Linked DNA regions of Homo sapiens. The protein of the gene in region 1 interacts with the protein of each later gene in a pairwise test. Each region holds a gene or a part of one and is shown in the gene's direction. Other genes may lie near its edges.

Evidence for each region.
Region 2: the proteins of SEPTIN3 (region 1) and PELI2 interact in binary tests that used the Homo sapiens proteins (3 or more experiments, as listed by UniProt).

What each region holds. Positions count from the first base shown.
Region 1 is NC_000022.11:41,977,640-41,989,117, forward strand, and holds part of SEPTIN3 (neuronal-specific septin-3), read left to right. Parts: intron 1-4,005; coding exon 4,006-4,197; intron 4,198-8,344; coding exon 8,345-8,473; intron 8,474-9,566; coding exon 9,567-9,648; intron 9,649-9,982; coding exon 9,983-10,120; intron 10,121-11,478. UniProt on the Homo sapiens protein: Filament-forming cytoskeletal GTPase. May play a role in cytokinesis.
Region 2 is NC_000014.9:56,280,673-56,292,150, forward strand, and holds part of PELI2 (E3 ubiquitin-protein ligase pellino homolog 2), read left to right. Parts: intron 1-7,764; coding exon 7,765-7,962; intron 7,963-9,595; coding exon 9,596-9,784; intron 9,785-11,478. UniProt on the Homo sapiens protein: E3 ubiquitin ligase catalyzing the covalent attachment of ubiquitin moieties onto substrate proteins. Involved in the TLR and IL-1 signaling pathways via interaction with the complex containing IRAK kinases and TRAF6.

The sequences.
Region 1 (11,478 bases):
GGGGCGGTGGGGTCCTGAAGGCTGCGGGGGGCTGAGGAAGATCCATCTTCAGGGTGGAAGGAAGAGGGGGGGCCTGCACTAAGCAGGTGCTATTTTGGAAAAGTACCCTCCCCCAGCTGCTACCTTCCTAACACAGGGGTGGGGTCCCTGGGCCAGACAAAGCCAAAGCCATTCATTTGCCTGTAAAAGGAAGTGCCAGGGTCTTTGCTTAGCATGGGAATGGAGGGGCTGTTTCTTGGCTGCAACCGAGTCAGGTGGATGGTGCCTCTCCCTGGAGCACTGATGGGGCAGGTAGCTTCTGGCAGAGGGTGCTGCAGGCAGATCCCCCTTCTCCAGGGGCCCTAGGAGAGCCAGGAGCTGAGGGGGGCCCCAAGGACCATCTAGCCAGGATGGCAGACTTGAGCTGCACCCTGCTGTGACCCGAGCTCTTCCCCACCCTTGGGGAGCCCCCCTCCAATCCTTGTTGCAGAGGAAGGAGGAGGTCTCAACAATTCTACTCCCTTGACTGTGGCGGAGACAACAGCCATTGCTCACTGGGGGGTCAGCTGCTCTGCATGGGGAGAAGCATCTGAGGGAAGAGAAAGGTGATGTGTCTGATACCTGCCTCACTCTGAAGTTCTCATTCACTCATCATTCATTCATTCACTTATTGAGGAGTGCCTGTGGTATGCTGGGTAGACTGGGGCACAGAGATCAATAAGACACGGCCCCGCCCTAAAGAAGGGTGAGAACTAGTACGTATTTGTGCCAGATAATTTACATTCTTCATTCTGTATAACCTTCATAGAAACCCAGCAAGGTAGGTTCTATCCCCAGTTGTCTGAGCAGAAAATGAGGCTCATAAGGGTCACCCAGCCAGGATTCAAGCCTGGGTCACCTGCCCATCTGACGTTGACATGGTGGGACCAGGGGAGTTGTAGGGACAGAGGATGGAACTACAGAATCCAGCTCCAGAGCAGCATTGGTTCTGTGCCCCAGAGGTCTTTGTTTATTTGTCAGGCACCCTTACCAGACAGGGGGCCCTCAAGGGCAACAACCTTGTCTGGGGTACATAAGTGTCCTTGGAATTTCGCCTAGGGCTTGGCTGGTGTAGACCCCCATTTGACAGCATATGAAATGGCCTAGATGGGATGGAATGAATGAATGAGTGAATGTGATGAGTACCAGAAAATGTGCAGTGGGCACAGAAGAGGGCCATCCACATCAGAAGGCAAAGCAGAGGCTTTCCTGGGAGTAGCAGTGGGGCTGAATGCTGGAGGAGGAGGAGGAGGAGGAGGAGGAGGAGGAGGAGGGAGCCAGGGGTTGGAGGGGGAACAGGATCTTCCAGCAAAGCTTGTGGCACAGTGACCTGCACACATTTACTGTACTTGGGGCTGGTGGGTGGCTTGTTAGCATGTGACTGGCATGTCACTGGCATGTGGTGGGGAGGCTGACTTGCCAGCAGGCGCTGTGTACAGTGCACACAGTGGGTGCTCATATGTGCTTGTTGGAGGAATGAAAGTGAGATCTACCAGGTCCTGGTCCTGTAGTGGGCCTGTGGTAGCCCCTAGATGCTGCTTGGGGATCTGGTAGGACCCTCTCTCCATCAGGGTCTATCTTTTGGGCGTGCTCTTTTAGGATGCTGCAGTTGACAGGCCAGGGCGGAGCAGGCCATGGTGAGAGCACACACTTTATAGGAATCTTTACACAACCTCTCATAAGTAAATACAAGGCATACTTTCCAAGTCTGTAAAATGGGGATAAGACCACCCCCCCAAACCATGTGGCTCTATCTTATAACACAGGTTGAGACCAAATGGGCTCAGCTGCAGAGGCATAAGGGGCAATGGAAAGGCCCAGCTTGTGTGAGCAGCTGGGCAGGAAAAATGGGGCATTGGTCCCAGTGCAGGTGTGCTGAGTGGGGCCTGTGAGCCACGTGCAAGAGTGGAGGAGCAGGGCCAGGCTGCTGAGAGTCAGCTGCTGCAGGGCTGGGCCAATCTTGCTGCCATGCGGAGCTGCCTGGCTGGGAACAGCTTCCTGGGAAGCAAGAGAGAGCCATGCCAGGCCCTGGGGAGGTCCTGAGGCTTTGGCAGATTTGGCTGTGCCTGGGAGTGACAGAAGAAAGAACAGTTTCCCATTGGGAGAGAGGGTCTTACCAGTACCGGTGGAAGGACCAGGTGGAGGGAGATGAGAGTAGGCTCCTGGCTGGGTTTAGGGGTGGGAAGGGAATACTTCTGTCCCCTCTCCCTCCCGCCCATCTGCTGCTCCATCAGGCCTCCCTGTAAGGTTGAGACTCTGCAGGGTGTTAGTCATGAAACATAGGATTCTAGAACGGCAGAGCTGGAAGGTGTCCTCAAGAGCACATGGAGTCCAACAACCATGCTTGTGTAACTGGCATCTGGGGACACCTTCCTTTAACCAATGCTTTCACATGTACTGTTTCATTTCCCCTACAGACCTGAAAGGGGCTGGGGCAAAAGGGTCTGGGACTGTAAGATATTGCTCAGTGCCTTTTTTTTTTTTTTTTTTTTTTTTTTGGAGACAGAGTTTGACTCTTTTGCTCAGGCTAGAGTGCAGTGGCACGATCTCGGCTCACTGCAACTCCGCCTTCCGATTTCAAGCAATTCTCCTGCCTCAGCCTCCTGAGTAGCTAGGATTACAGGCGCCTGCCACCATGCCTGGCTAATTTTTGTATTTTTAATAGAGACAGGGTTTCACTATGTTGATCAGGCTGGTCTCGAACTCCTGACCTCATGATCCGCCTGCCTTGGCCTCCCAAAGTGCTGGGATTACAGGCGTGAGCCACCGCGCCCGGCCATTGCTCAGTGCTTCTAAGCATCATGTCTCATGAAAGCTCACCACAGTCTTAGTGATGATCTTTCCATTTTATAGAGAGGGATGCAGGCTCATAGTGGGGAGGTGGTCTTCCCAAGTCCACAAAGCTGAGAAGTAGCAGAGCCAGGCTCTTTCCACTTCACCCCATACCCCAATTGTATGGATGGGGAAATGGAGGTGCTCTATTCTGGAACCTGCCCTGGTGGACAGTGGCCTGATAAGGAAACCCACAGATTTCTCCTGTGTATGAACACACCCATGATCCACTAAACCCAGGGGGACGTTTGCCCTTCCTCACTAGGGAGGGGCTGGTTCCTCAGCCTTCTCTTTCATCTGCTATCCACCACTCCAAGAGCACACTGTGTCGTCTTAGGCAAGTGACTGCCCTCATCTGGTTCTCATCCCCTCCCCACTGGTTCCACAGATTCAGAACAATGGCTGGGAGGGTGTCTGGGCTCCTTCAGGTACAGACACCCCTACTCTGCAGTGGTGCTCATGGTACAGAGGGGACATCGAGGCTGGGAGACGAGAGTGATAGCCACTCTCCAGAGAAGGGTAGCCCTGTTTGCTTCTAAAAGATGAAGCAGCCGAGGTCAGTGACAGTTAATAGATGTTAGTGCAGGATCCTAAAAAGTCTTTGCCCTTTATTCGGGGAGGGAGGCATGACTCAGGTCTGAACAACCCCAGACATTTCTTAGACCAGTGGTTCTCAGCCAGGGCAATGGTGCTTCCCAGGGGACATTTGGTACCATCTAGAGACATTTTGGGTTGTCACAGCCTGGGGGGCTACTAAGATCAGGGGTGCCACTAATCATCCTGTAATGCATGTGACAGCCTCCCACAATAATTACTCAAATGTCATTAGTGCCAAGATGGAGCAGCCCCTGGGTTAGATGCACAGATGTGGGCTTCAGAGCAGTGAGGTGCATTTGAAAGTGCCCAGCAACCAGAGAACCTGGCACTGGCCCAGATTTTACCTCTGACCTGCTCTGTGTTCTTAGTTGAGTTCTTTCTCCTCCAGGCCTCAGTCTCTTTGTCTATGAAATGAGGGACCTGGACTGGATGATACTAAGATCCCTTCCAGGCCCAACTTTGTATGATTCTGTAGCAAGAGAAAAATACCATGGTTTCCATGTGACCTCTGCCGTCCTCCTGATCACCCCTCCGACCCCTCCCACCTTGGCTCTGCAGGGCTCCCAGAGACCAGGACGGACGCAGCCATGTCAGAGCTGGTGCCTGAGCCCAGGCCTAAGCCAGCGGTGCCCATGAAGCCCATGAGCATCAACTCCAACCTGCTGGGCTACATCGGCATCGACACCATCATCGAGCAGATGCGCAAGAAGACCATGAAGACCGGTTTCGACTTCAACATCATGGTCGTTGGTACGGAAGGCTGTGGGGCTGCTGCAGGCCTGGTGGCGGGCAGCACCAAGGATCCCATTTCTTTCCCCCAAATGGCTGTGACCCTGGCTCTTCTAAGATGAGCTGTTTGTAGAAGGGAGAATTTCACCATGCTGATCACAAAGGCCTGACCCCTGTCTCCCCTTAAGACTAGCTGACCCAGGGGTAGGAGCTTCAGGTGGATGCCAGCCCAGCCCCCCATCACCAGCTCGGTGTACACAGGCAGCCCCTTCACCACTCTGATCCTGCTTTTGGGTTTGTGACATGAGAGAATCAGCAATGTTCTTCCTTACCTCTGAGAGCTGGTGGAAGGATTGGATGAAGGGTGGTCTTATTTCTACTCTTTTGTAGTGCTTTAAAACTTTGAGAGAAGGCCGGGTGTGGTGGCTCACACCTGTAATCCCAGCACTTTGGGAGGCTGAGGTGGGCAGATCACCTGAGGTCGGGAGTTTGAGACCAGCCTGACCAACATGGAGAAACCCCATCTCTGCTAAAAATACAAAATCAGCCAGGTGTGATGGCGCATGCCTGTAATCGCAGCTACTCGGGAGGCTGAAGCAGGAGAATCGCTCGAACCCGGGAGGTGGAGGTTGCAGTGAGCTGAGATCACGCCATTGCACTCCAGCCTGGGCAACAAGAGTGAAACTCCGCCTCAAAACAAAAAACAAAAAACAAAAAAGATTTTGAGAGAATTTCCAGGGATTTGGTCACTGAGTAGCATCACTGCGTCACAGAATGTAAGAGTAGGAAGGGGCTGGGCATGGTGGCTCACGCCTGTAATCCCAGCACTTTGGGAGGCCGAGGTGGGTGGATCACCTGAGGACAGGAGTTTGAGACTAGCCTGACCAACATGGTGAAACCCTGTCTCTATTAAAAATACAAAAAAATTAGCTGGGCATGATGGCACATGCTTGTAATCCCAGCTACTCTGGAGGCTGAGGCAGGAGAATCACTTGAACCTGGGAGGTGGAGGTTGCAGTGAGCTGAGACTGCACCATTGGACCCCAGCCTGGGCAACAAGAGTGAAACTCCATCTCAAAAAAAAAAGAAGAAAAAAAAAAGAGTAGGAAGGGACCTTTGCCCCGTCTCAGTGAGATGTCCAGTCAGTGCTGAAAAAGGAATCTGGCGTCATCCTTCTGTCCTCTTCCTCCTTCATCCCCCAATCAGTCATCCAGTCCTGTCCATTTTACCTCATACGTATCTCTTACGTCTGCCCACTTCTCTCCTCTCTCTTGCTGCCACCCTATACTGACTTTCTCTCACCTGGCTTGCCGTGGCCACCTGACTCTGTGCTGTCAAAGTGCTGACCTGCAGCAAGATAAGCTCAGCTGGGGCTTGGGCCAGAGTATAAATCATCTGGAAAATCTTGCTATAAAAAACCTCCACTGAGCTAAACAGTGTGCTCAGTGACAAGGTAGATTTCTCTCCTGAGGCAGACTTCTTATCTCAAGAACCAGTAGCAAATGGGTCAGGGACCCTGGTAGCTGGGCCCCTATGGGCCACACTCGGAGTGGCACCAACCCTCCTAGCTCTCTGTCTCCTTTCCTCTCCAATCCCTTGTCCACCAGTGACCAAATAATCTTCCCACCTTGCAAAACTTATCGAGTCACCCAACTTACTTAAAACTCTGTAACAAACTCTCCTTTAACCTCAGGGTAAGTTTAAACTCGTAGACTGTCCTGATTGTACCTCTTCAGCTCATCTCTGACCACTTCCCATCTAGCATTGTACTCCTCACTCAGAAGAGGCAGTGCTCGTCCACATGCCATGCTCTCTCCTACCCTAGAGCTTTTGCATCTGCTGTTCCCTCTGGCTAGAACTCATGACTCTTTTGAAATCAACCTTCCGGTTTCAGCTTAGTTGCATTTCTCCAGAAGTCTTCCTTAGTCCCAGAGAGACTGGGTTGGATTCCCTTGGCAATGCTGTTTCAATACCCTGTGGCTATTCTCTTTCACAGTGGTTATTGCAACATACTATAATTGTCTGCTTATGTTTTGGTCACTCTCACACTAAGCAGCTCCTTGAGGGTAAGGATCATGTTTTGTTCACGATAGTACCTCCAAATTTTAGGACAACACTTGGCACCTAAGAATAATTAATGAATGAATGCTCTTAGAAAACATCTCAGAGCAAGCATGGCAAATCCAACACCCGTGAGCCACTTCTCTCCCCAGTGGTGTGCATGGCAGACTGCTAGTCAGTCATGGCACGTGTTCAGTGCTGAGCCCAGATGTAGCCTTTTTAACATAATGGTCTAGGTGACTACTACCAGATAATCAGCAGGAATGAGAAATGCACCTTATTTACCATCCCTGGTCTTGTCCAATTTCCTCTCTCCTCACCATCCTATCAGTAAAGAAACCAAGGCATGACTAATCCAAAGGCATTCAGGGAAAACAATGCAGGTGGGTCTGGAACTCTAGGCCCTTGTCCCCCAGCATGGTTCTTTTTCTAATATAATCACAAGAATTCACCAGCCCAGTATTTCTTAGATCTTATTGTCCATAGGACTCTTCTGGAAGCCCAGTTAAAATGCAGATTCAGAATCATAGGTCTGGGGTGGGGCCTGAGATTCTGCATTTCCTACTAGTGTCCGGGCAATGCCGAGGCTGCTTGTCAATTGCAAGTCTTTCTTGTGGGATTCTTGTACGTGTTGAAGTTTGAGAAGCTCTGCTCAGACCAGTGGGTTTGTTTCTTTTGAGACAGAGTCTCGCTGTGTTGCCCAGGCTGGAGTACAGTTGCGTGATCCCGGCTCACTACAGCCTCTGCCTCCTGGGTTCAAACGATCCGCAGCCTCCTGAGTAGCTAGGACTACAGGCATGTGCCACCATGCCCGGCTAATTTTTGTATTTTTAGTGGAGACAGGGTTTCACCATGTTGGCCAGGCTGGTCTCGAACTCCTGGCCTCAAGTGATCTGCCCGCCTTGGCCTTCCAAAGTGCTGGGATTACAGGCATGAGCCACTGCACCTGGCCTGACCAGTGGTTTTCCCTTTTTTTTTTTTTTTTTTTTTTTTTGAGACGGAGTCTCGCTCTGTCGCCCAGGCTGGAGCGCAGTGGCGCGATCTCAGCTCACTGCAAGCTCTGCCTCCCAGGTTCATGCCATTCTCCTGCCTCAGCCTCCTGAGTAGCTGGGACTACAGGCGCCTGCCACCACGCCGGGCTAATTTTTTGTATTTTTTTTAGAAGAGACGGTGTTTCACCGTGTTAGCCAGGATGGACTCGATCTCCTCCTGACCTCATGATCCGCCTGTCTCGGCCTCCCAAAGTGCTGGGATTACAGGTGTGAGCCACGGCAAACGGCCTGACCAGTGGTTTTCAAATGTTCTTTAGCTGTGAAACTTTTCCTTGAAATGAAATCTTCTGCAGATATGCATCTGGAAAACAGGTGAAAGGGAGCCATAGCGAAGGAAGTGGATGCAGGGGCCCTGCCTGCCCAGCCTCCTCCTCCTCTCACAGTGCCCTCTCTGGCATGTATCTTCACAGGACACTAAGGCTTCTGGGAGCACAATCTAAAAACCACTACACTAGAAGAAAGAGTGGATATAGAGCCAAGATGTTATTAGGGTTTGAGTTCCTGGTCTTGCATGTATTAGTTATGTTGCTCTGCACATATTTTGTTAGAAGAGGATTCATCTCTCTAGGACCATCTCAACTGAGGATAAAGATAGTTCTGCTTCAGGATCCACAGGGCTGATATAAAAATGAATTTGGCTAACAAATGTGAATGTACAATATGCACTGTGAGGCAGTATCAGGATGCAAAGTCATTCTATTTTTCCTTTTAGTATCATTAAAAAGTGAAAACCTAAGCAAAAAATGGAATCACGAGAAAACAGAAAACCACGACACTAGACATATGCAGAGGTTGTCCCTTTTCCCAGTGGTCCTGTGGCTCTGGGAAGGAGAGAATATGGAATCCAAGTGATGTTTCCCCAAGGCCCTCTGCAGTAAGCAGGAAGCCATTCCCACCTGCCTGCAATCCCCACTCAGCCTGGCCATCCCCCAGTGAGTGGTCAGACAAGGTGTGGCCTGGATCATGGCTCTAGAATTCTGTAAGCTTATGGAGAAATATTAGGCTCAGGAGGTGGATGCAGAGTCTCCCTACCTCCTCCTCCTGCTTTGCTGTAGGCCAGAGTGGACTGGGCAAATCAACGCTGGTCAACACGCTCTTCAAATCCCAAGTGAGCCGCAAGGCCTCCAGCTGGAACCGGGAGGAGAAGATCCCCAAGACAGTGGAGATCAAAGCTATCGGGCATGGTGAGGACCAGGCAGGGACCCCTATGGGCTTTGTTCAGTGAGTGCCTCTGCTGGAAAGGGGAAAGAATGGGGCTTATTGAAGAATAAGATCAATAAAAGGCAACCTTAAGACAAAACAGACGTGAGCACTTCACTCTGAAGCAAACTCCTTAGACTGCAGGTTCAGGGAAGAGAGAGCAGGGAGCTCGAATGGAAGGAGGTGAGATTTGAGGTGGATGATAAAGTACAGGATTTAGACAGGTAGAAAGAGGTAAGGAGTGGGCAGGTACGGTGGCTCATGCCTGTAATCCCAGCACTTCGGGAGGCCAAAGTGGGAGGATCGCTTGAGTCATGGAGTTCGAGACCATCTTGGTCAACACAGTGAAACCCTGTCTCTTTTTTTGTTTGTTTGTTGTTTGTTTTTTTGAGACGGAGTCTTGCTTTGTCGCCCAGGCTGGAGTGCAGTGGTGCGATCTCGGCTCACTGCAAGCTCCACCTCCCGGGTTCACGCCATTCTCCTGCCTCAGCCTCCTGAGTAGCTGGGACTACAGGCACCCGCCACCACGCCCGGCTAATTTTTTTTGTATTTTTAGTAGAGATGGGGTTTCACTGTGTTAGCCAGGATGGTCTTGATCTCCTGAGCTCGTGATCCGCCTGCCTTGGCCTCCCAAACTGCTGGGATAACAGGCGTGAGCAACCACGCCCGGCCCGAAACCCTGTCTCTTAAAAAAAAAATTAGCTGGGTATGATGGTGCATATCTGTAGTCCTAGCTATTGGGGAGGCTGAGGCGACAGCATCACTTGAGCTGGGGAGTTCGAGGCTACAGTGAGCTGTGATTGCACCACTGCACTCTAGCCTGGGTGACAGAGTGAGACCCTGTCTCTTAAAAAAAATAAAAGAAGAAGAAAAAGAAATGAGTAGAGAGGGTATTCCAGATTCCAGGTACAGGGAACAGCATAAGCCATGATATCGAGATGGAAAAGACCCTAAATTTGACTTTTCCAATAACTGATCCTGAAGACAAGGCCTGGGTCTCCCTGGCTAGTAGGCTGCCAGGTACCTGGGGTCAGCTGTAGGACTGACCTCTCTGGTACATTTTCTTTTCACCCCCAGTGATAGAGGAAGGCGGTGTCAAAATGAAGCTGACCGTCATCGACACCCCAGGCTTTGGAGACCAAATCAACAATGAAAACTGGTATCTGTCTGCCTCTGAGATCTTTGCCCTAAAGACTCTGCTGGGAAGATACTTACTATGGTGCAGATTCATTCACGTTGAGAACCATCTGCACCCTCCATGCTCTGTAGTTCCCGACAGCCCAGGCCAGGGCCCCTGGGGAGCTCCACCCCTGCTAACTAACCATCCAGGAAAGCCATCGGTGCGGGGGCTGAGGGGGAATCTGGCAGCAGGTATCCTAGGCCCACCAACCAGGGAATGACATGAATGTAAGGAGATTGCTACCAGATCATGCCTAAGCTGAGCCCTAGGTCTTGTTCTTCTGATGCATCTATCTACTTTCCCTCCCCATCAGCTGGGAGCCCATTGAGAAGTACATCAATGAGCAGTACGAGAAGTTCCTGAAGGAGGAGGTCAACATCGCCAGGAAGAAACGCATCCCTGACACTCGTGTCCACTGCTGCCTTTACTTCATCTCTCCCACAGGACACTCGTATGTACCAACCCTACCCCTATTGTCAGGCCTGGTCTGGTTTGTATCATCTGTGCCCATCTGGATTGGATGATCCATACGTTGACTCAGCTAGGCCTCCCTAGCTGAGTCCTAGCCCTTCCAGCCAGATGGGTTGGTACATAGTCATGGCCCATGACCTTGGGATTCCCTAGACTTTCCACGAGGAAGTTTGACTTTCTTGCTAGGAGGTTAAAGCTGTCCAACATCAGCCACCAATATCTGCCCACTGGTGTCCCAGCAGCATGGCACAACTGTATCAGCAAAGAGGACTTGGTGAATGTGAGCAGAGGGCACTTCATTTATTCACCAAATACCTGCTTTGGAAAATAATTGGAGTCGGAGGGAGCAGCAAGAAGGGTGAAATAGGGCAGTGCAGGGCTCCTGGATTGGGGCTGGTGTTTGGAGGGTAGGGACCCAGTTGTAGGCATTTAGAAGGTACCAGCCTGGAGTGAGGCATTGTGTGTTCAGAGATGAAGGCCAACCATTGTCATGAAGTACTATCTGATAGGCAGAATAAGACACACACAAGCATGTTGGGAACTCTGATTGTGAGTGACAGGTGGGCCCCATGAAGGAAGTGCTGGGAACAGGCAGAGGATGGAGATCCTAGGGGGCAGGCCAGAAACCTTCCTGCAGAGACCGGGGGAGGGGGGTCCCATAACATTACTAAGCCCAGCTGCTGGGCCAGAGTTAAGCTCTTCAGAGGATGGCACAAGCAAGGTAAGCCCCAAATTTTCTAGGAACCAGGCAGTGATGGTAGGGGGAGAAGAGAGATGAAACAAGACCCCTGGGCTAGACCCAGGAACTCAACAGAAGGCTGGTTTTATCCCTCCCTAGGCTTCGACCCCCTGGTCAGAATGAACCATCAGACAGACTGACTTAGTGAGTCCCTGAGATTGCAAAATAGAGCCAAGTTGGGGTCTCAGAGCCTGAGGTAGGATGGGGGCATAGACTGTCAGATTGTGGGAAGGGCAAGGCCTCCAGTTTGGCCCTGCAGGACTAACTCTGGGGGCTAGGAGGAGACCTGTCAAGAAGTAGTCTGATAGGCAGAACAAGATGTACACACTAGGCACGGTGGCTCTCGCCTATAATCCCAGCACTTTGGGAAGCCGAGGCAGGAAGATTGCTTGAGTCCAGGAGTTCAAGACCAGCGTGGGCAACATGGCAAGACATTGTCTCTACACAAAATTTAAAAATTAGCCAGACATGGTAGTGCGCAACTGTGGTCCCAGCTCCTCTGGAGGCTGAGGTGGGAGGATTGCTTGAGCCCTGGAGGTCAAGGCTGCAGTGAGCCAATGACCATATCACTGCACTCCAGCCTGGGTGACAAAGTGAGA
Region 2 (11,478 bases), on another chromosome or scaffold:
AAAGTTCTAGAAAAAAACTTAGGAGAATTCATATTCTTGGAATAGGGAAGGATCAATAGTAAATGAAGAAATAGATTTTACCCTACGCATTTTCACTTCTTTTTTAAATGTCACAAAAATTAGAAGTCGAACTAGAGACAATTAGGGCAACAAATCAAGTAGACAAAGGATTGATACCTACTGTACAGTAATCACTTTTCCCATGCTTTCAAAAATGGACAAAGAACAAAACATATAATTCTCAGAAGAAGAAATATAAATGGCCAATAAATATATAAAATAGTTTTTAAAATACCAAATGAATTAATAATAAAATACTCTTTATTACCTATTAATTGGAAAATATTAAATAATACAGCACTGTAAAACATTGTATGGAATTGGTCCCCCTGGTGGGACTGTGAATTGGTGCAACATTTCTATAGGGCAACATTGCAGTACTACCATGAATTTCAGCGCTCAGACCAATTGACCCAGTAATTCTAACTTCAGTCATTTTTATACGTAAATAATTAAGGAATATGAACAAAGATTTAACCAAAAAGTTGTTCATTGTAGTGTTGTATATACTAGTAAAAAACTAAAAATAAACCTATACTTCCAGGAGTAGGTAAGAATGATTACAGTATGGTGCATTTAAATGCAAAATACCATGCAGCCATTACATGATTATTAAATGGGAAGCGCAATAAAATAAGTGAAAAAAGGCATATGTCCACTTCATGCTTTATTTTTATATGCACACACATAAACATAGGTATGGAAGAGAGATGGGACTAGAAAGAAATGCACCAGCTCTTTTTCCATTTTCTGTAACATTGTAAAGTACAGGCCTAATCTGGATCACCTAATTCAGTACTTTTGATTGAGAAAGAAAGAATATTTTATGTGGTTTTTAAATGTATTTGCAGTAGTCCTGAACTTCAGCACCTCAGACTGATAAGAAGAGCCAAAGGCAAATTACAAATTGGGGAAATATTTACAATTTGTATCACAAAAGGTTAATGTCACAAATATATAAGGTACTCTTGGAAATCTCTTTTTAAAATACCTACAATCAGATAGACAAATGAGCAGAGGATTTGACAGACAGTTCACCAAAAAAGGAAACTAAGTAACTCTTAAAAATAAGAAAATATGCTCAACCTCATTTACAAAAAGAAAAATGTGAATTAAAACCACATAGAGATACCACTTTTCACTTGTCAGATTGGCAGAAATCCAAAAGGTTTTGTCAAAGATATGGGGAAAACAGACATTATCCTACATTCTATAAATTGGTATAGCATTTATGGGGTAGCAATTTGAAAATAGCTATGAAAAATACAAAATGTTTACATAGTTTGACTCAGCTCTTTTCTTTGTAAAGCTCTTCTTTCTAGAGACTTACCCCAGAGATATCCTTACCTACATGCGCAACGCCATTTGTACAGAGTTATTGCTCAAAGCATTGCTTAATAGGAAAAGATTGGAAACAACCTAAATGTTCTTCAGTAGTGGACCAGTTCAGTAAATTTGGGTACAGCTATACAGTGGAGCCCTCCAAGGGTATAAAACAGAACAAAGAAAAGCTGTATATATAGCCACAGAAAGAGCTCCAAACATATTAAATGAGTTAAATATTAATATTATTGAGTATATGGAGTCATATTGGTAATATATATTCCATTAATTTAAAATGCTACTAAATAAAATGTTATTAAATAATATGAAATATTACATTATTAAATGTTAATTTAATATGGTAAAATGGTTTAAATCATGCTTATATGCATTAAAAAATCTCCAAAATGATTAACAAGACATGAATGTAGCAGTTGCCTTTGTGGGGAAAGGGACTGAGCAGGTGGTATACAGGGAGATATTTTACACTTTTCGATTTTTGGAACTATGCGTATGTGTTAGATATTTAAAAACTAAATAATCTTAGATAAAATATATAGTCATATTTATAAAAATAGTTATTAAAGTGCCAGTTTGAACTCAAAAATAAGATTTATCATGTTTGGGCAAAATACTAAATGTGGTTTTACTCTCCATGCCATTCCATTATATAATCTTATAAATGTCTTCTTATTCTGTTAAGGAAAATATCTTCCTACATAAGTATATGTATATTCTCCCCTGTTGATATTTTTATGGAACTTTATTATTATATCTTTTTAATACTCATTAAAATTATTTTCAATTTATAAGTTTTTTTACTACTTACAGTAGCAGTGAAGATTTTAAAGATTTTTTTTACAGAGAGAATTCTTAATACTAAAAAAGTGAATAAAGCCTATTTCACAATTGTCAGTGATACTTTTTTACCACTTAAATTCAAAAACTACTGTGATGGTACCTGTTATAGGTAAGTCAGGTACTCTCAAAGTGTGAGACATTAAATTCCTTTAAGAAGAATCTTGTTTCTTCGGAATTTTTCAGAGTTTCATAGATATTCTTTAGCGACGTACGTGTCACATAGTGTATTCCGCACTGTTGAACAGTCACATTCGACTCACATGCTCACTTTCTTCCCTCTCATCTCTGCAGAATGAATTAAAAGATTTAGTTGGACTTTTTCAGCTTCCCGTTACTAACTTCTGAGTACTTTATGCATACTTCCTATTTTGTCATACAGAATATCGAAAGACTCAAGATTTAATAAAGTTCATAATTTTTAACTGCAAATTCACAGCAATGAAAAATACAATGACTGCTAATACAGTTTGGTGCCACTGCTTTGAATCATGCCAAAGCACCAGCAGCTTTACCCACCATTGTTCTAGCACCATCAGCATAGAGACCAGCACAGTGGAAAAGGCAGTTAACGTCTTTGTATTATTATGAAGGTAATTTTGGCCTCATGTACCTAGACCCCATGGCAGGGTCTCAGGGACCCTCTGGGGTTCATCAACCACATGCTGAGAATACTGATTTGTACCAACCTCTTAATTTCATAGCTGAGAAATATGGGTGTTTGAAAGGAAAAGTAATGTAAACTAAGGCCAGAAGAGAAGAGGCATTAGGGGCAGAGCTAAGATTTAGGTCACTGAGCTCTTCATTCTCTGAATAGTACCAGCTCAGCCTCTTTAAATAAAGTATGGTAAGCCAAGCAAGAATTCACATGTTTCTTAAGGAAATATAACACATTACATTCACAGACTCACTGGACCTGTTAGAAGGATCTGTGGCAGATCATTTTAAGCAGAGAACTAAGCAACTCTCATAAGACCTTGAAAAGACAGGCTTGTTTCCATTTTTTCCTCCTTTTAACAAGTTTATATTTCCAAAGCCTACTACTGACAAAAATCACTGAGCAAAAAGCGCGACAGCACTCATAGTTCTGAAGTATGGACCTCAGTGTGGAGAGTTTGTTCGTTTTAGTCATTCCCATTAAAATGATTTCTAGGGTTAATTGAGTATTTAAAGGCAGAATATCAGAAAGAACCAAGAAAGGGCTTTATGCTGCATTTCCCACTGTTGGAGTCAGTTAGTAGACTCAGAACTCAGAAATATTATTGCCTGAGGAGAAAAATCAAAGCTAGATCTGAATTTAAGGTATAAGAAATTGTTAGTTAATATAATCAGAGTAAGATCTTGGTCATTATTTTCTGGAGTAGGCATAAACAAGGAAAGAAAGAAAAGTCTAACAAGAAAGTGAAACATAAAAGAGAAAATAGTTAATGGAAGGAATTAGAGGGGTGCATTGTCTTTACAGTGTCCCTAGAGTAACGTGTGGTGCCAAGTGCCTTCTGACCTTAGGGGCCAGGAGACTGACTGGGCCCTGCAGCCGGTGTTCAGGGGCCCTTTCTCTCAGATTTCACAGTTTCACAGGCTTCGAACGCGGTGCTACAAGGCCTAACAGTTTTGGGTTTTGGTTTTTTGTTTGGTTTGGTTTGGTTTGGTTTTCAATTTAGTTGATTTACTGTAGTTTTAGATGATAACATTTAATTAGTATCTATTAAGTTAAGAGGAAAATATTAAAGAATATCTACATTTTCTAGTGGGTATTTCTACAACCATTGTACATGAGCATGCATGTGCAGGTATGTTTGTATCTCATAGGATTCAGCCTCCCTGTCATAATCTTCCAATTACTAGTTTCATCTCTTGACCATCTGCTGTGTCAGAAACTCCTTTGATGACTGGGGAGAGATAACTAAGGCTCTCCTCTCAAGGAGGCTACATCTGGAGAAGGCAGACCACAAATAAACAAACCCTCTGGGCAGAGGAAACAGTGAGCGCAAAGGCTCCAAGTCAAGATCACAGTGGAGAAGGACAGCAGTGAACTCAGATGGACTTGGAAGGGCAGGTAGAGGCTGAGACAGGTAGGACCTTCAGGCCAGGTTGAGTCTGAGATTTATTCTAGGAATTTTGGGAAGCTGTTGGAGGATTTTAAGCAGGAGAGAGGTATAATCTGATTTATGTTTTTGTACGATTTCTCAAACTACTGTATGGAAAAGAATCTAGGTGGCAAGTATGAAAACAGGGAGACCAGTTTGGAGGCTAAGGTGATAGAACCCAAGTAAGACATAATGGTAACCAGAACCAAAATGGGAAAAGTAGAAGGATTGAGGATGTGTTTGGAGGTACAGCTGACAGTGTTTACACAGGGCTAATGTGGGCATGGAGGAAACTGAAGAATCAGGTTATTCTTGGGTTTTGACTTTTAGCTTGAGCAAATTGGATGTCAGTCAGTCATTGATATAGGGAAGCCCCAGGGTGAAGGGGGATCCAAGTTCTGTTTGGCATATATTACATTTGAGATATTTATCAAACATACAAGTGGAGATTGGGTGTGCCGGTCTGAAGCTCAGGGGAGAGATGAAGACTTTGAGCTGTTAGGTGGGATTTGGTGATACTATTTAGGGAGAGAACAGAAAGAAAAGGGAAGGGGGGACTATTTACCAACTGGCCTGAAAGTTTCATTATTTTAGTACCAGGTAGAGATGGACCGGCATATGCTGGCTCAGCATAAGCCCTGGATTTAGCAATATATTGATTTTTGGAATCTTAGCATGCGTGGTTTCAGTAGAGTTGTGGGGAAGGAAGCTCAATTGGAGTGGGTTGAGGAAGAAGGAAGCTAAAGATATGGGTGAGGAAGTGGAGGAGATAACAGGTTTTCCAAGAAGTCTTGCTGTTAAGTGAATCAGAGAAACAGGGCTGGAGCCTGGGGCTTGCTTGCAGGTGAAGGAAAGCGTTTTTAAAGGTGGGAGACTACGCCAGAGCAGGGCTACTCAAACTGCACTCCCTCTGCCCAGCAGTGAAATGTTTGTTAAAATACAGAATGAGATAAGCATACAAATTGAGAGGAAACTTTTATGACAGTTTGGCATTGCGGAAACATCCAAGCAGATGATCATTTCTCAAGTACTCATTTTTATTGTATGTTTAAAAGGCATCAGTGATGGGTTAAAATTTAAAACAACAACAGCAACTATACTGGTCCTTTAACCACAGAGTTTGAGAAGCTCCAGAACGTGTGTGAAAGCTGATGGCATGATCCAGTATAAAAGGAGAAATTGGTGACTCAAGAAAGAGAGGAGATAATATTAGGAGCAAAATCCTTGGGAAAGGGAGAACATTGGAATACCAAGTGTCAATGGAAAGATTGCTTTTAGATGGGAGCAACAATATTTCATCCTTATCCCAGGAGGGAAGTCAGAAAATAAAGTGATTGATGCAGGGAGATGGGAGGAATTGGTTGAGGGAGGTGAGAAAAAGGTGAGGCCCTTCTAGATGCTTTGATACCATCTTACCTGTCCTGGCTTCAGCTGACATCCAGGCAAACCCAAACTTTTCTTATATATATAAAATTTAACATGCTGAATGGAGCAAAGTTATCACTGTAGCTAGTTATATGACTACCGGCATTCTGTGACTATCACATGAAATTCAGAAGCACCCTGGCTTGCGTGCTATATGAATATCAGATGAAATTCAAAAGCATCTTGGCTTGTGTGCATGACTGCCTTTAAAATAATGTAGAGTTGATCCAGTAGTCAAAAGAAAGGGCAGGCTGCAAGTTTTCCACATTGAGTGATTTTTCAGCAGGAAAGTGACTTAGTTTTGTTTTTTTGTTGTTTTTTTTGTTGTTGTTGTTGTTTTGTTTTCCTGGAAAAAGCAACATGAGGCTTGTGTCATAAAGTATAAAATTTTACCAGCACTCTAGAGGTTAGATTTAAGTGGAAGCAAACTGATAAGTCATGTGTATGACCGATCAAGATAAGTGTCATGACTTAAAATCATTGATCCTAGCAGGCTGTTCCAGTTAGAATAAAATTTCCTCTTTTTACAGTCAATTTCAATTACTTCATCAAGACATTAATTTAATACATTTGGATGAACTCAGAATGTGGCCCTTCTAGAAAAGAGTAATTTCTGTACACAAGAAGGAACAGTTATGAAACATTCAAACCAGCAGAGTGGTTTTGGCTTTGAACTTAGAGCTTGAAAAGTCATTGCCCTCTTCCATGGAGATGGACAAATCTTGTGACAGTGACTGTCGCTATGAGGCTCCAGGTTTGGTGAGATGACTGGGAAATTCTAGAATTTATCACATTTTACTCCTAAACTTCACTGGAATAGAGGCTCAGGACAGGTTTACGCCTAAGTTTGAAGTTGGCTTTGTTTTCGCCTTTATACTTTTCTCCATTTGTTAAATATTTTGCAATAAGTCTTCATTACTTTTCTAATTTTCTTGTTAAAAAATGTTTAACAAAATTAAAGCAGTCTGAATCAGTAGAGTTTCCAAGTTACCCAGTTTTTAAATGAATCTAGCAGAGAGGAGATTTTGCAGCTTTAGAAGGATGAATTATATGATTTTATAATACATCTAATTTAGATTTTACATTGCATTTTTTAACAAGTTATGTGTTTTCAAAACCTGAAATGCATATATCTAGGCAATATGCATCTGTTCAAATTGTTAAGTTTCAATGAAACCAGCAGTTTAGTTCATTCCAGGCACATTTCATTAGGGCAAGAAATTAAGGGTGATAAAAAAACAAAAGAAAATAGATGTCTGTGGTCTGCTGGTTTTAGAGAGATAGTCTGTGCATGAGAACGTATATATGAGATTTACAAAAGAAATGTAATATTGTTCCAGGAAGCAAGCTGAGCTAAGTGATACAAGATTTTTTTTCTACTTTCTTCATTTGGATGAAAAATGTATTACATTGCCTAGTTTGTAGATAGAACTTTGAGACCAGAATAAAAATGCCTTGGAAATTGACTTTTGGGAACTTTATGTGCATACATCACAGGCCTCTGCATTCCTCCCATTGGCAACTTCAGAATCAGAGTTACAGTTGTTGGGATAGAACATTAATCCAAGAGATAAAATCTGATGAGTGGCCAAAGATCTACTCCTGTCCTCTTAATTGAGCTTTTTCTCAATACTTAAAATCTAATGAACTAGTGAGTGGCATAAAGTGAGTTAAGCAAGATGAGTAAGTTCTAGAGAGTTGCTGTGCACCGTTCTGCCTGTAGTCAACAATGACTGCATTATGTGCTCAAATATTTCAGAGGATACATCTCATATTATATTCTTAGCACAATACAATAAAATTAAAAATAGGTATCTCTAATATTTGGTTACCCTAATATCTTCCCTAGTTAAATAGGAAAAGGAGCACGAATGAAAATCTTGCATTAAATTCTAACCCTCAGAACAAGGATAGTGAATGTTAAAGGAATCCTGAATGCTTTTTCCTTGTGAATAAAATACGGCACCCTGCTATTTTCCAAGTGAATCACGAGTACATTTGATTTACTTAGGTGGGCAGATCAACAGAAAGCCCTATCGACTTCGTTGTCACAGACACGATTTCTGGCAGCCAGAACACGGACGAAGCCCAGATCACACAGAGCACCATATCCAGGTTCGCCTGCAGGATCGTGTGCGACAGGAATGAACCTTACACAGCACGGATATTCGCCGCCGGATTTGACTCTTCCAAAAACATATTTCTTGGAGTAAGTACTGTCAAGAAGTACACGATTTCTAGAAAAATGCTTGTGATTATGATATGGAACATTTAATTGGAGCAAAAAAAAATTGGCTTTGTATGTTGCCTCTAGTGAGATTTTGAGATTTTAGTTTTCAGGTGGCCAGTTTGAGAAACTTGTTATTAAAAATCTGAACATTAATAAGCATTGCTTGTTATTCATTATATTTTTTATATTGTAATATTTACAGTAAGTACTTTTTTTAAAGTATGCCTATAACATTGTCCATAATGTATTTACGGCAACGAAGAGGTTTATTTCAGAGAGAAAAATAAATGGGCCAAATTTAGATCATTAGGGCTTAGAGGAAAATGTTAGTGATTCACTCATTCAAAAATGTTTTATGAGTGTTTGCTATGTTCCATACTGGGTGTTTTAGTTATGGGATTACAGAGAACAACACAGACTTGAATCCCTGCCCTTATAGGGTTTCCTTGTAAACCCCAGAAGTTTTAGTGAATATCCAGGTTTAACATAGTTTCCTTTTGAATTAGGATATTTTTGCAGGAAAAAACCCACTCAAAATGATCTAAAATCAGTGAAAATGTACTATTCCCACATAAGAAGTGCCGATGAAGGCCAGCTCCAGGGTTGGTGGTTCAGTGGTTCTGTGACATCCAGTGCACTGGGTTCTCTCTGTCTTGCCTTCTGCCTCCCGTGGTGCACCAGCCTCTTCCTGGGAGGTCTTCTTGTGGGTGAGAGCTGGCTCCTGCACTTCCAGATGTCCCCTGCCACATGACAACTTCCAGCCAGAGAAGAGGGTGGCAGAAGCACTGTTTCTTCCTTGTCTCTTCTTAGAGCACAGACACCTTTCTTGGAAGCCTCCAAGAAGATATCATGTGTCATCAGTCAGAGCCCAGTCATGTGCTGTGCCCACCTGTAAACCAGCTATTGGGAAGAGGGCTGGGAGTGTCATGTTGGGTTAATCAGGATTCCCCACCACCCCCCAACCCCCGCCCCAGCCACATGAACAGTAGCTGAGCTCTGTCACCAAGAAAGCTGAAGGGAAGAGCTGTGGCACAAGCACCCAAGAGTGTCTGTCCTGTCGTCATGTCAAGCTACATGCGCCATCTACCTTTGAGAATTTAAACGGTGATTATTATGAAAACATAATGACCCCGACTTGTTGGCTTAACATTTTTGGAATTTTCTAGCTTTAATAAAAGGTCTTTCTTTATGACTGTCCTTTCTCTTCTCTATCCTGACAGTGAGAACATAGAAAGTACTTTTAGATAACAGGATAGGAGCATGGCATAAGTATAACTGAAAAGAGAAAACACACCAGATTCCTGGAATCTCATGGGGTTGTGGGGAAGGTAAAAAGAATCTTAGAGGGAGAAGCCCAGGCCTCGATTTTTTGCAAGTTCTTGAGAACTATGATGTGTGTCCAGTGATAAGTCATTCATCCATTCAGCACTTCTTTTATATTGTCGAAAGGATGGCATATGTTATCCTTGTGATTATTAGCTTTAAATAGAAAATGAAAATTCATCACCTTCCTCCCCTCTGCCTCTATGCAATGTATTAAAGAAATTCCAGAATCCTTTCCATTTCAACATCATCTTAACCTACTTTTTCTGTTCTGCTGTGTTCTCTCCAGGAAAAGGCAGCAAAGTGGAAAAACCCCGACGGCCACATGGATGGGCTCACTACTAATGGCGTCCTGGTGATGCATCCACGAGGGGGCTTCACCGAGGAGTCCCAGCCCGGGGTCTGGCGCGAGATCTCTGTCTGTGGAGATGTGTACACCTTGCGAGAAACCAGGTCGGCCCAGCAACGAGGAAAGCTGGTGAGTGTGCTTCACTCTGCAAGTGTGAAGTACGAAACTACTCAAGCCTAACTCGAAGGCTATCATTTTCCTCCCCTGATGTTCAGAACCTTTGTGCAGGTCCAAGCGCCATGTACTGTAACTCAGGAGAAGCAGAATTCCACAAGCCCCTGAAATCAAGAGGGAAATGGCCTTATCTCCTTCAGGGGTTCAACTTTTCCCATAGTGGGAGTAAATTGTGTTTTGCTCCTTACCACCTGAAGAGCATTATCTTTTATTATATACCTCACCACAAAAATCTACTTAAATTCACTTTAAGGAGAAGAAACTTATTTTTAGTGTAAAACTTTATTGATTTGGAAAACGTTTGAGCAGTCCAAAAACAATTAGTAAAAATTATGCATTAAGGAATTATTTACTAGACTTTCTGGAAGTAAAAAATAAGTCAGCTGGTTTTCCCTTTGAATTCCTATATATTAAGGCAGAATTCTCTATACTGTCCACCAAAATCATAGTTACAACTGTTTACTTGAAATGATTTATATACTGCATTGACCTGGCATGTTAATATTTTCCTATAAATATCACCACTTATCCCCATGCCCTAAAGCAGTTTTTTTAAACCCATTCTTTCTTGGAGAATAATTATAATACCTTAAATATAGAACTTTGGGTTTCTGATCTTGCCATAGCCATGTAGCACAGCCACTGATTTTTAGTAAGCTGTCCATTCCTGTACTTTTCTTAATTTGCTAGGTAGAAGCTAGAACGAGAGAGAACAAATGTCTTTTTCTAGAAGCTAGAAAAGAAGGAGTTCTTCAAAACTCCCACAGAATAAAATGTATACAGAATAGAGGATTTGACCTAGCACTTGTCAGAGAGAAAGATCATCACCAAAAATGTCTAAGATGGAAAAAGAAGTTGGGGGCTGTTTCACTGACCTCATTTGCTGTTCTCTACTGGATGTTTGTGTTTAGGGAATGGTTATTTTTATTTCTATTTTACACCATTTTTCAGCTTCAGGCACAGCGTATGCGTCTTACAGTGCACCATGGCTGAATAAATATGAGAAGCATTTTCTAAAAAAAAAGCAAATTCAATAAATTTTGTATGAATGTTTTCAAGAAATTGTAAACAAAGGAGGAAATGTGAAAGCAGTTTTTCTAAATAATCTTTTGTTTCTGATCACTGGATAGTTTTATACAAAACTGACCTAGATTGGCCAAACTGGTTATTCATCATTATAACAGCAAGAGTAAGAAGTCAGTAAATGGTTGCTGGGTGCAGACTCTGCGTTAACATTTCCGACATGAGCTCACTTCATCTGCACAGCAGCCCTCTTAGGGAAGTAGAGTCATCCCCATTTCATGGATGAGGAAGATGTGGCGTGAAGTTAAAGATTGCCCAGTGTCACAGAGTTAGCAGGTGGCAGCCAGTGGGATTCAAACTCAGGTCTCCCTGATGGAGAGCCTGGACACCTAATACTACTCAGTACCATGTTGTGGGGAGCCAGGGATGGTTTACACCTGAGCATTTGCCTCCCTGGGTGAGTATAAAGCATACGCTGGAGTCCGTGGGGAGCGCCTTTGTCCAGGAGGGCATATCACAGGATGAGTTTCTCGTCCACTCTGGTTATTGTGTAATGACCCTTCTCAGGCTGCTATGTGTGCTGGAGAATTTTACAGTGCGACTGAAAAGAACGAACTCCAAAAATG